Homo sapiens: one gene and its partners. The protein of the gene in region 1 interacts with the protein of each later gene in a pairwise test. Each region holds a gene or a part of one and is shown on either strand. Other genes may lie near its edges.

Region 1 (3,753 bases):
AAAACAAAAGAGATTGCAGCTGAATGTACAAAGAATGTTTCATCTATCACAGAAGACTGTCTGGAAGCTCATGTTCACCCCTCATTCTCAGAGAGCTAGAGGGGTTCACAAATTGATAAGGGTTGGACTCAGTGACCACAAGGGCTCGCAGAACCTATGAGTTTACAGCAGCCTATGATGGAGGAAGCATAGGTTTACCTCTGGTTTACAGAAGTTTGTGAAAGGGGATGAACCACCCAGGCAGGCCAGCACCAGCCACCAGGACCAGGGGCTCCCCTGCTGTGGAACACAGGGGTGCACTGACCTGGAGCTGGAGAAATGAAGAGGTGTTGGTGTCAATTGTTAGGGAAGCAGATTCTTCTATGCTAAATGCCAGGCTTGAAACGTGGCCATATGCCACCCATCCATCTGTTCCAGGTGGAATCTGTGTGTCCATGGCCACACAGAGGCTGACTTTGGTAATCCACTCTGGAGATACTCAGGAGTGGGGCAGTGTGTCCAGTGGTTCTGGCCATCCTAATGGTTCAGGTTTCCTTTGCAATTTATGCTGATACTTTAGGAGCACTTGACACCTGGGACCAACTCACAATGATGAGGTCATCAGAGGGCTGGTCAGTAACCTGAGAGATGACCTGAGAGCTGGTGCATATTCTTCCAGTACAAATCCAATCATGGCGACCCATTGCTGAAGAAAAGGCAAAACTCCTTCACAGGCTCTGGCCCCTTCCTGCCTCTCCAGCTCCTCCCACACCAGCTCCCCTCCCTCTCAAGATCCCACCACATTGGTCATGTTTCAGTTCCTCCTACTTTTCATGCTCCTTCCTGCCACAGGGCCTTGGCACATGCTTCTCCTATGTAGGAGACTCCTCTGTCCCTTTTTCATCCAGTTACCTCCTCAGCATTCTTCAGAGCTCTGCTCAAAAGCCATCCTGCCCCCACCATTATACACTACAGCACACTATCAACTTGTCTTGGTTACCATCTTACATTCCTTCCAGTGATTGCCTGAAGAATGCTGCTCTTCCCATCTAGACTGTAAGCTCTATGAGGGCAGGAACTACATTTGTTTTTTCTGAGGGCCTCCCTATACAGTGCCTGGAACCTAAGGAGTTTAGTTAACATTTATTGAATGCATAAGTAAAAGTGCCCCTCTGGCCCAGAGCTGCAGCCTGAAGATAACCTGGACAACTTGGCCTCATCTGGGTGAGGGTGTTGTATTGGTAAATGGGCATCATCCTAAAGACTTCTCTTGCCCACTGGACTGACATGGGGTTGGCAACCGCAGCAATATAGACAGTGGCAATTATGAGCTTATATTTCTGTATAGTACAATTTAAATACATTGGATTATTTCCAATAGGCAGCTGTTAGGGGGTTAACAGCAGTTAACACTTTCAGCTCTAGTCAGAATTGTTTGCTCATAAACATAAATCAAGGACCTTTTTTTTTTTTTTTTTGAGACAGTCTCACTCTGTCGCCCAGGAGTGCAGTGGCGTGATGATCTCGGTTCACTGCAACCTCCAACTCCCAGGTTCAAGCAATTCTCCTGCCTCAGCCTCCTGAGTAGCTGGAATTACAGGCACCTGCCACCACACTCGGTTAATTTTTGCATTTTTAGTAGAGACGGGGTTTCACCATGTTGGCTAGGCTGATCTCGAACTCCTGACCTCAAGTGACCCACCCGCCTCAGCCTCCCAAAGTGCTGGAATTACAGGCATGAGCCATTGCACCTGGCTGAATTGACGGCCTTCTATGGGCCCAGTACTGTACTAAGAATAGCGGTACTCAGCCCCTGACCTCAGAGACATTATGATCCTAACAGACGGACAGAGACACACTGGATTCTACTGCATGCACACTCCATGATGCAGTGTTAACCATATGCCAAGCACAGTGCTGGGTGCCTGGGAAACCAGAATGAGGGACTTGGAGAGGAGACAGCCACAAACACAAGAAGTAGCAATGAAGTGAGAAAAGCAGACCAGAGACTGTGGGAGGGAATGCAGAGGGGGAGCCAGCACTCCTGGCTATGCTGCTGTTAAATGTGGGTCAGAGGACAGGAGCGCAAGAGTGAGTTAAACCTTCCAGCTTTGAAAGGGATGCCTGGTGCTTGGGCCTGGGTGTCCTAGCCCCATTCTGACTGCAGCTCTGCTTCCTTGTACAGGTCTGTTGTGGGCATCCCGACCTGCGAGTCCGTGGTGCAGCTGCAGCCGGGGCGGAGCTACATTATCTATGTGCGAGCCCTCAATATGGGGGGCCCCAGCGTGAGGAGCGAGCCAGCTACAGTCCACACCATAGGTCTGTGCCCCAGCCCACAAAGTCTCTGGGACCCAAAGTGGCCACTCTGTGGCAGACCCAGTGCTGCTATGACTTCACTGGGAAATTGATGAATATGCACAGATGTGGACACGTGGCAAGTCAGGCCAGAAGGAGTTCAGGGGTGTCCCATACTGCCCTAATTGCAAGTCAAATGGATCATTAAGAAGTCCTTCAATTCCTATTTCCCTTGGCAAATAGGTTAGAAATTCTTATCCATACACAGGCATTACAGCTAGAGGTAAAGAGCACAGCCTCTGGAATCAGAGGGGCTTGGGGTTCAAGTTTAAGTTCTATCATTTGCCAGCTGATTTCTTAACCACCTTGTGCCTCTGTTTCCTCATCTACAAAATGGAAATAGTGACACCTGTTTCTAAGGGTCGTCGTGAGGATTGAAGGGGATACTAGGCACACAAGACTGCCCGATGAGTGTCAATTGCCATCCTTGTTAACTGGACGCCTATTACTAGGCCAGGTCCAGGCTTAGGTGTATCCCACACGAAGCTAAACCGGTGACCACCGCCCACATGGAGAAAGCAAGTGATTGGCTGCGGGTCTTCTGTGTGTTCCTCCTCCCACAGGAAGCTACTTTCGCCTAAACAAGGACACTTGCCATCCCTGGCTGACCATTTCTGAAGACGGACTTACGGCTGTACGAAGTGAAAGGAGAACCCCCGCCAGGGAGCTGTCACCCAGCGACACTCACTTCACCAGGTACTTTGTCAACCGCTCACAAGGGCGTTCTGTGAACTTCCCGAAGGTGCACTGTTATTCAGGTCAAATCCGAATATGGCACGGAGGCAGCCTCGAGGGAAAAGGAATCCTACAAATGAGTGAGGAGGGAGGAGCCTAATGGGGAGGGGACCCAGAGGAGTGTGGGCAAGAGGGGTCAGGCAGGTGCAGGCAGAAGAGCCCCCTGGGACGGTGAGGTCAGGAGAGGGCGCGGTCCCCTGGGAGGGCATGGTCCCTGGGTCCTAGGCTGCCAGAGCTGGAGCAGCCAGAGGTCATGAGGGTGGGACAGGAATTACTAGTGGAGGGTGTCCAAGTTCTTGGCGTTCTGAACAAAGAATTGGACAAAATGCACAAACAAAGCAAGGAAAGAGGCCAGGCACGGTGGCTCATGCCTGTAATCACAGCACTTTGGGAAGCCGAGGCAGGCAGATCACCTGAGGTCAGGAGTTTGAGACCAGCTTGGTCAACATGCTGAAACCCCATCTCTACTAAAAATATAAAAATTAGCCGGGCCTGTTGCGGGTGCCTGTAATCCCAGCTACTCGGGAGGCTGAGGCAGAAGAATTGCTTGAACCCGCGGGGCGGAGATGGCGCCACTACACTCTAGCCTGGGCAACAGAGTGAGACTCCTTCTCAAAAAAAAAAAAAAAAAAAAGCAAGTAAAGAATGAAGCAACAAGAGCAGAGATTTATTGAAAACGAAAGC
Region 2 (3,753 bases), on another chromosome or scaffold:
GTGCCATCCACGTGGGTATAAGGGTCAGTGGGGCAAGTCAAGTTGGTCTGTCTAGCTTTTCCACAGTGAGGTCGTCACCAGGAGGCAGCTGTGTAAGTCACATATGTGGGTTGAGCACATGCAGGAACTGGGAGGAGGTGGATAACTGGAAACTGTTGAGGTCAAGTGCAGCTTTCTTCTTCTTCTTTTTTTTTTTTTTTTCTGAGACAGTCTCTTTCTGTCGCCCAGGCTGGAGTGAAGTGGCGCTCTCTCAGCTCACTGCAACCGCCGCTTCCCGAGTTCAAGCGATTCTCCTGCCTCAGCCTCCCGAGTAGCTGGGATTACAGGCACGCACACACCCGGCTAATTTTTGTGTTTTTTAGTAGAGAGGGAGTTTCACCATGTTGGCCAGACTGGTCTTGAACTCCTCACCTGAAGTGATTGGCCTGCCTTGGCCTCCCAAAGTGCTGGGATTACAGGCATGAGCCACTACACACGGCTTGAGTACGGGTTTCTTCTGTTATAAGAAAGTGAAACCCATAATGAAAATGCATGGTAAGGTAACATAAGAAGTCACGGTAACAGGCAACTCTAGAATTAATTCATATGGAGATGATGGGCTTCAAAGATTGTTTGTTCTCCTGTAGGTAACCATCTGTCCCTGTTCCTTCTGGTAAGTGAGGACCACTTGCATAATTGGCTGGTGATACCTGCTTTGTCGTGGTTTCACTATTTTCAGAATCTGCTGTTTTCCATTAGTCTATCTTTCCATCTGTTAATACCATTTTCTCTTGATTAGTATAGATTTTATTTATTTTATTTTATTTTATTTTTTCGAGACGGAGTTTCACTCTTGTTGCCCAGGCTGGAGTGCAATGGTGCAATCTCAGCTCACCGCAATCTCTGCCTCCCGGGTTCAAGTGATTCTCCTGCCTCAGCCTCCCAAGTAGCTGGGATTACAGGCATGTGCCAACATGCCCAGCTAATTGTGTATTTTTTTTTTTAATAGAGACAGGGTTTCTCCATGTTGGTCAGGCTGGTTTCGAACTCCCGACCTCAGGTGATCCGCCCACCTTGGCCTCCCAAAGTGCTGGGATTATAGGCATGAGCCACTGCGCCTGGCCTATTTATTTTATTATTATTTTTTTGAGATGGAGTATTGCTTTGTCGCCCAGGCCGGAGTGCAGTGACGCGATCTCGGCCCACTGTAACCTCTACCTCCTGGGTTCAAGTAATTCTCCTACCTCAGCCTCCCGAGTAGCTGGGACTACAGGCACCCACCACCACGCCTGGCTGATTTTTATATTTTTAGTAGGGACGGGTTTCTCCATGTTGGCCAGGCTGGTCTCAAACTCCTGACCTCAAGTGATCTGCCTGCCTCAGCCTCCCAAAGTGCTGGGATTACAGGCGTGAGCCACCGCGACTGGCCAAAGACCCTCTCTCTTAACAAAAAAAGGGTTGGTTTGTGGGAGGACGTGAGTATAGACAGAAAGTAAGAGGTGTGATGACCAAGTCATGGGATAAATGTTTGGAGTCCACAGTATCATGAGAACTTCTTAGGAATAAAGTATAGGCCTCCAGGGCTGTTAGTCTTACCTGTCCTCTTTTATATATGTGAGATGTTTCAGGATTCAGTGGCCTTTGAGGATGTGGCTGTCAGCTTCACCCAGGAGGAGTGGGCTTTGCTGGATCCTTCCCAGAAGAATCTCTACAGGGATGTGATGCAGGAAACCTTCAAGAACCTGACCTCTGTAGGTAAGAATGACAATATTACTTCCCAGTGAATTAGAGAACAAATGCTTCTAGCTCATCAATGCTGTTCATTGATTTGGAACATGGACAAAAAATACTTTGATGAATAAATCAGGCATGGCTACCATGTACCATGAATACAGAATCTAATGATTTTTAAATAAATTCATACTAATTCTGGATCTGTGTTTTCTCCGGGTCTGTGTTTTAGGAAAAACATGGAAAGTTCAGAACATTGAAGATGAGTACAAAAATCCCAGGAGAAATCTAAGGTAATTTTCTCTCGCAAGACAAGGCAATGCCTCTAGAAAATCTTAAAATGTGAGAAAATAGGCCGGGTACAGTGGCTCACGCCTGTAATCCCAGCACTTTGGGAGGTCGAGGTGGGTGAATCCCAAGGTCAGGAGTTCGAGACCAGCCCGGCCAATATGGTGAAACCCTGTCTCTACTAAAAATACAAAAAAATTAGCTGGGCGTGGTGGCACATGCCTGTAGTCCCAGCTACTTGGGAGGCTGAGGCAGGAGAATTGCTTGAATCTGGGAGGCAGAGCTTGCAGTGAGCCGAGATCGCACCACTGCACTCCAGCCTGGGTGACAGAGCGAGACTCCGTCTCAAAAAAAAAAAAAAAGTGAGAAAATGTTAAAAAGAAGCAAAAGAAATAAGCCCAGTATCAAATTTATGTATTCATAGAAAGTTTTCCTAAAAACATATGTTTAAATGTAACATACGCTGGGCTGGGCACTGTTGCGCATACCCCCAAATGCCAGTCCTTTGGGGCTTTCAGACCAAAGGATTGCTGGAGGCCAGGAGTTTGAGGCTGCAGTGAGCCATGTTGGTACCACTACACTCCAATTTGGACAACAGGGTGAGTTGAGACCCCAACTCAAAAAAAAAGACGCACATGTTTAGTATTTGTAAAATAGTTTACTTGAAAATAGGATTACAAAGCCCCATAGAAATACTAATTTTAAAAAAATATATATACCCAGACCATCTTGTAGAGCATATAGTCCATTAATATTCAAATGATTCAGACAGAGCAGAAAGCTGACACTTTGCCGGGCAGTGTTAACAATGCAAGTGCAATAGTTGTTAATGATATAAATCATGTTTTTTTCTTCTTTTTTGAGACAAGAGTCTCGCTGTGTCACCCAGGCGGGAGTGGAGTGGTGTGGTTTTAGCTCACTGCAACTGCCACTGCTTGGGTTCGAGGTATTCTCGTGCCTTAGCATCCCAAGTAGTTGGGATTACAAGCGCACGCCGTCACACCTAGCCAATTTTTGTATTTTTAGTAGAGACAGGGTTTCGCCATGTTGGCCAGGCTGATCTCAAACTCCTGGCCTCAAGCCATCTGCCCGCCTCAACCTCCCATGGTGCTGGGATTACAGGCGTGACCCACCATACCCAGCCAATATAGATCACTTTTTTATTTTTTTATTTTTTTTTGAGACAGAGTTTCGCCCTTGTCACCCAGGCTAGAGCACAATGGCGCAATCTCAGCTCACTGCAACCTCTGCCTCTGGGGTTCAGGCGATTCTCCCAACTCAGGCTCCCGAGTAGCTGGGATTACAGGCACCTGCCACCACGCCCAGCTAATTTTTGCATTTTTAGTAGAGACGGGGTTTCACCATGTTGGCCAGGATGGTCTCAAACTCCTGACCTCAGGTGATCTGCCCACCTCAGCCTCCCAAAGTGCTGGGATTACAGGAGTGAGCCACTGTGCCCGGCCCTATAAGTCACTTTTAATCAAACCGTTAATAATGTGCTTCTCATTTTTCACTGAAGTCTTATGAGAGAGAAACTCTGTGAAAGTAAAGAAAGTCATCACTGTGGAGAAAGCTTCAACCAGATTGCAGATGACATGCTGAACAGGAAAACTCTTCCTGGAATAACACCATGTGAAAGCAGTGTGTGTGGAGAAGTTGGCACGGGTCATTCATCTCTTAATACGCATATCAGAGCTGACACTGGACACAAGTCATCTGAGTATCAGGAATATGGAGAGAATCCATATAGAAATA
Region 3 (3,753 bases), on another chromosome or scaffold:
TTGTGCCTGGCAGCTGCTGGAGTTGTGTAGTGCACACTCTGTGTGACTGTGTGCTGCAACTCTGCAGGTGGCTCAGAACACACACTCACTTGTCAGATACTCAAACAGTACAGACAGAATAAAGGCCCCCTTGACCTACTCACGGAAACAAGTTATCAGTTTTTGTGGTCTTTCCAGACTATTCTCTATGTATTTTCATGTATATATAGGGAACACAAACTCATCTGATACTCAAAACAGTATAGACAGAATAAAGGCCCCCTTGACCTACTCACAGAAACAGAAGTTATCAGTTTTTGTGGTCTTTCCAGGCTATTCTCTATGTATTTTCATGTATATATAGGTAATACAGAATAAAAAAAGAGCAGAGTTTTTTCTCCTCTGCATTAATGACATCATACCATACACATTGTTCTGCAGTTTTTTCCCCTAACAGAATGATTTTGAGATTTTTTCATGTTGGAACACAGGAATCAACCTGAGTCTTCTTAACTACTACACAATCTCTTATGTAGTATGTATCGTAGTTTATTTAGTATTCTCATTAAGGACCGTTGCTGCAGTGAATGAAAAACTACAGTTGCTGGGTCAGAGGTATGCGTTTTACTTCATAACTGATGGGGCTATAACCATGTTGCTGCTTGTGGATTTAATCCATTTATTTTCAACTGCTTAGTGTATTCAGTTGTAGGCTTTTTTTTTTTTTTGAGATAGGGTCTTCCTCTGTCGCCCAGACTGGAGTGCAGTGGCACTCCAGGGCTCAAGTGATTCTCCCAAGTAGCTGGGACTACACTTGCGTGCCACCATTTAAAATTTTTTGTAGAGATGCAGTCTCGCCATGTTGCTCAGGCTGGCAAGTGATCCTCCCAAAGCGTTGGGATTACAGGCATGAGCCCCTGCACCTGGCCCGGTTGTGGACTTACATCACAGCGCACGTGTCCTTTTACTCACTGAGGAACAGTTGGGTTCCTTTAGATGCTGATTCTTCAGTGGGTCTGTGTGTTGCAAATGCATCCTGCCAGCCCTAGGCTTTTCTTTCCCTTTGTTAACAATGTATTTGGTTGTATATACCATTTAAGTTTAATGTCATATTTATGAAAAATTTCCCTTAAATGGCTTGTCTTTTTTTGGGTGTGTATCTGGTTTAAGAAAATTTTCTGTCTCTCATGGTGTTAATGATATATTCTTAGAGTTTCTTCCAAAAGTTTAAAAAAGTTTTGCTTTCCAGATGGAATTTATTTCTATGTATGGTATAATGAAAAGATACAATTTTTTTTTCAATTTGGATGACCAGTTTTTCAGCACTCTAACTTTTTTTATTATAGTAAAATACACATAACATAAAAATAACAATTTTAACCATTGTAAGTGTACAGTTCTGTAGCATGAAATACATTCACATTGTTGCACAGCCATCACCACTGTCTCCAGAGCTTTTTCATCATCCCCAACTGAAACTCTGTACCCCTTAAACACCAGCTCCCCATTCTTCCCTCAGCGCCTGGCAACCACCATTCTACTTTCTGTCTCTATGAATTCGACTACTCTAGGTACCTCATATGAATGGAATCATTACAATATTTGCCCTTTTGTATCTGGCTGATTTCACTTAGTATAATGTCCTTAAAGTTCATTCATATTGTAGCATGTGTGAAAATTTCCTTTTTAAGGCTGAATAATATTCCATGGTATGAATATACCACATTTTGTTTATTCATTCATTGATGGACATTTGGGTTGTTTCCCCGTTTTGGCCATTACAAGGAGTGCTGCTATGAACATTGGTATCTGTATGTCTGTTTAAGTCTCTGTTTCCATTTCTTTTGTGTATGTACTCAAGTGCAATTGTCAGTAATACAGTTTTTAAAACAATATACATAATGGAATAAAAATAGATTAACACAATTTTGACCAATGTGGCTGAATAGTATGGAGTTTCCATATACCCACTCTTTCCCATATGGTTTCTCCTATTATTAACATCTTGCATTAGTATGCTACATTTATTATAATTGATAAACTAATATTGATACATTGTTGTTAAAGTTCATGATTTAGAGTTCACTCTTTGTATTGTATAGTTCTATGGGTTTTGACAAGTGCGTAATGTCATGTATCATTTACATGGCATGACTGCATGCTACAACCCTGCAAGGGGCTCACTTGTAAAATACTCAACAGTACAGACAGAATAAATGTCATTACATGGCTATAGTTTTACCTTTTCCAGAGTTGGAAATGTCATAGATTTGGAATCATGTAGTATGGAGCCTACTCAGATTGGCTTCTTTTGCTTAGCAGTATGCATTTAAGTTTCCTCTAAGTCTTTTTTGCGACTTGATAGCTCATTTCTTTTTTTTATTTTTATTTTTTGAGACTGAGTCTCACTCTGTGGCCCAGGCTGGAGTGCAGTGGCGCGATCTCGGCTCACTGCGAGCTCTGCCTCCCGGATTCACACCATTCTCCTGCCTCAGCCTCCCGAGTAGCTGGGACTACAGGCGTCCGCCACCATGCCTGGCTAATTTTTTGTATTTTTAGTAGAGACGGGGTTTCACCATGTTAACCAGGATGGTCTCGATCTCCTGACCTCATGATCCGCCTGCCTTGGCCTCCCAAAGTGCTGGGATTACATGCGTGAGCCACCGCGTCCGGCCAGCTCATTTCTTTTTAGCGCCGAATGATAATATTCCTTTTTATGGAAGCACCACAGTTTGTTTATTCGTTCACCTACTGAAGGACATCTTGGTTGCTTCTAGTTTTTGGCAATTTTTGAATAAAACTGCTATAAACATCCGTGTGCAGGTTTTTGTGTAGACATTAAATTTGTAACTCACTTGGGAAAATACCTAGGAGAGTGATTGCTGGGTCGAATGGTAAGAATATATCAAGCTTTGTAGGAAACTATTAAACTATCTTTCAAAGTGACTGTATCATTTGCATTCCCAATAATTTTTAAAATTTATGTCCAAGTACCCTAAATGTACTTATATAATAAGTATGTCAGACTGTTCTGTAAAGTTAAACTTCACCTGGAATAATATTTAGTCATTGGTTTTGTTGGCTGTCTTTCTTGCAGTGTATCTCTTCATGTGTTTTGAAGTACAGACTTTTTTTTTTGAGATGGAGTCTGGCTCTGTCGCCTAGGGTGGAATACAGTGGCATGATCTCAGCTCACTGCAGCCTCTGCCTCTACCTCCCAGGTTCAAGCGATTCTCCTGCCTCAGCCTCCCGAGTAGCTGGGATTATAGGCACCCGCCACCACGCCTGGCTAATTTTTGTATTTTTAGTAGAGACAGGGTTTCACCATGTTGGCCAGGCTGGTCTCAAACTCCTGACCTCAAGTGATTCGCCTGCCACAGCCTCCCAAAGTGTTGGGATTAAAGACGTGAGCCACCACACCCAGCCAAATTACAGACCCATTTTCAGAGTGAGTGCTTTTGATTTTGTTTTCTTTTCTTTTTTTTTTTTTTAATTTTGTTTTCTTCTGTGCCCACTGTCCTCTGTGTGGTGATATTTCAGGTGCTTCAGCTGACCTACTGGGCCTCAGTCTAGAATCAGATATGATAATTGTGGGTCAAGGGTCCTGCCCTTTGAGTTAATTGGGCTATTTTCGATCCTCTCATAGAGTATGGTCCTGAGGCTGTTTATATCTTCCCACTTATCTAAGCCTAGAGTATTAGATAAACTGTAGTTCTAGGCAGAGATTGGCAGCAGTATTTTTTAGCTTCCTTTCAGCTCCAGCATCATTGCTGG

What was found.
Region 2: the proteins of FSD2 (region 1) and ZNF20 interact in binary tests that used the Homo sapiens proteins (3 or more experiments, as listed by UniProt).
Region 3: the proteins of FSD2 (region 1) and DTNB interact in binary tests that used the Homo sapiens proteins (3 or more experiments, as listed by UniProt).

The regions. Positions count from the first base shown.
Region 1 is NC_000015.10:82,764,443-82,768,195, reverse strand, and holds part of FSD2 (fibronectin type III and SPRY domain-containing protein 2), read left to right. Parts: intron 1-2,164; coding exon 2,165-2,298; intron 2,299-2,897; coding exon 2,898-3,030; intron 3,031-3,753.
Region 2 is NC_000019.10:12,133,750-12,137,502, reverse strand, and holds part of ZNF20 (zinc finger protein 20), read left to right. Parts: intron 1-1,598; coding exon 1,599-1,734; intron 1,735-1,942; coding exon 1,943-2,003; intron 2,004-3,517; coding exon 3,518-3,753. UniProt on the Homo sapiens protein: May be involved in transcriptional regulation.
Region 3 is NC_000002.12:25,666,859-25,670,611, reverse strand, and holds part of DTNB (dystrobrevin beta), read left to right. Parts: intron 1-3,753.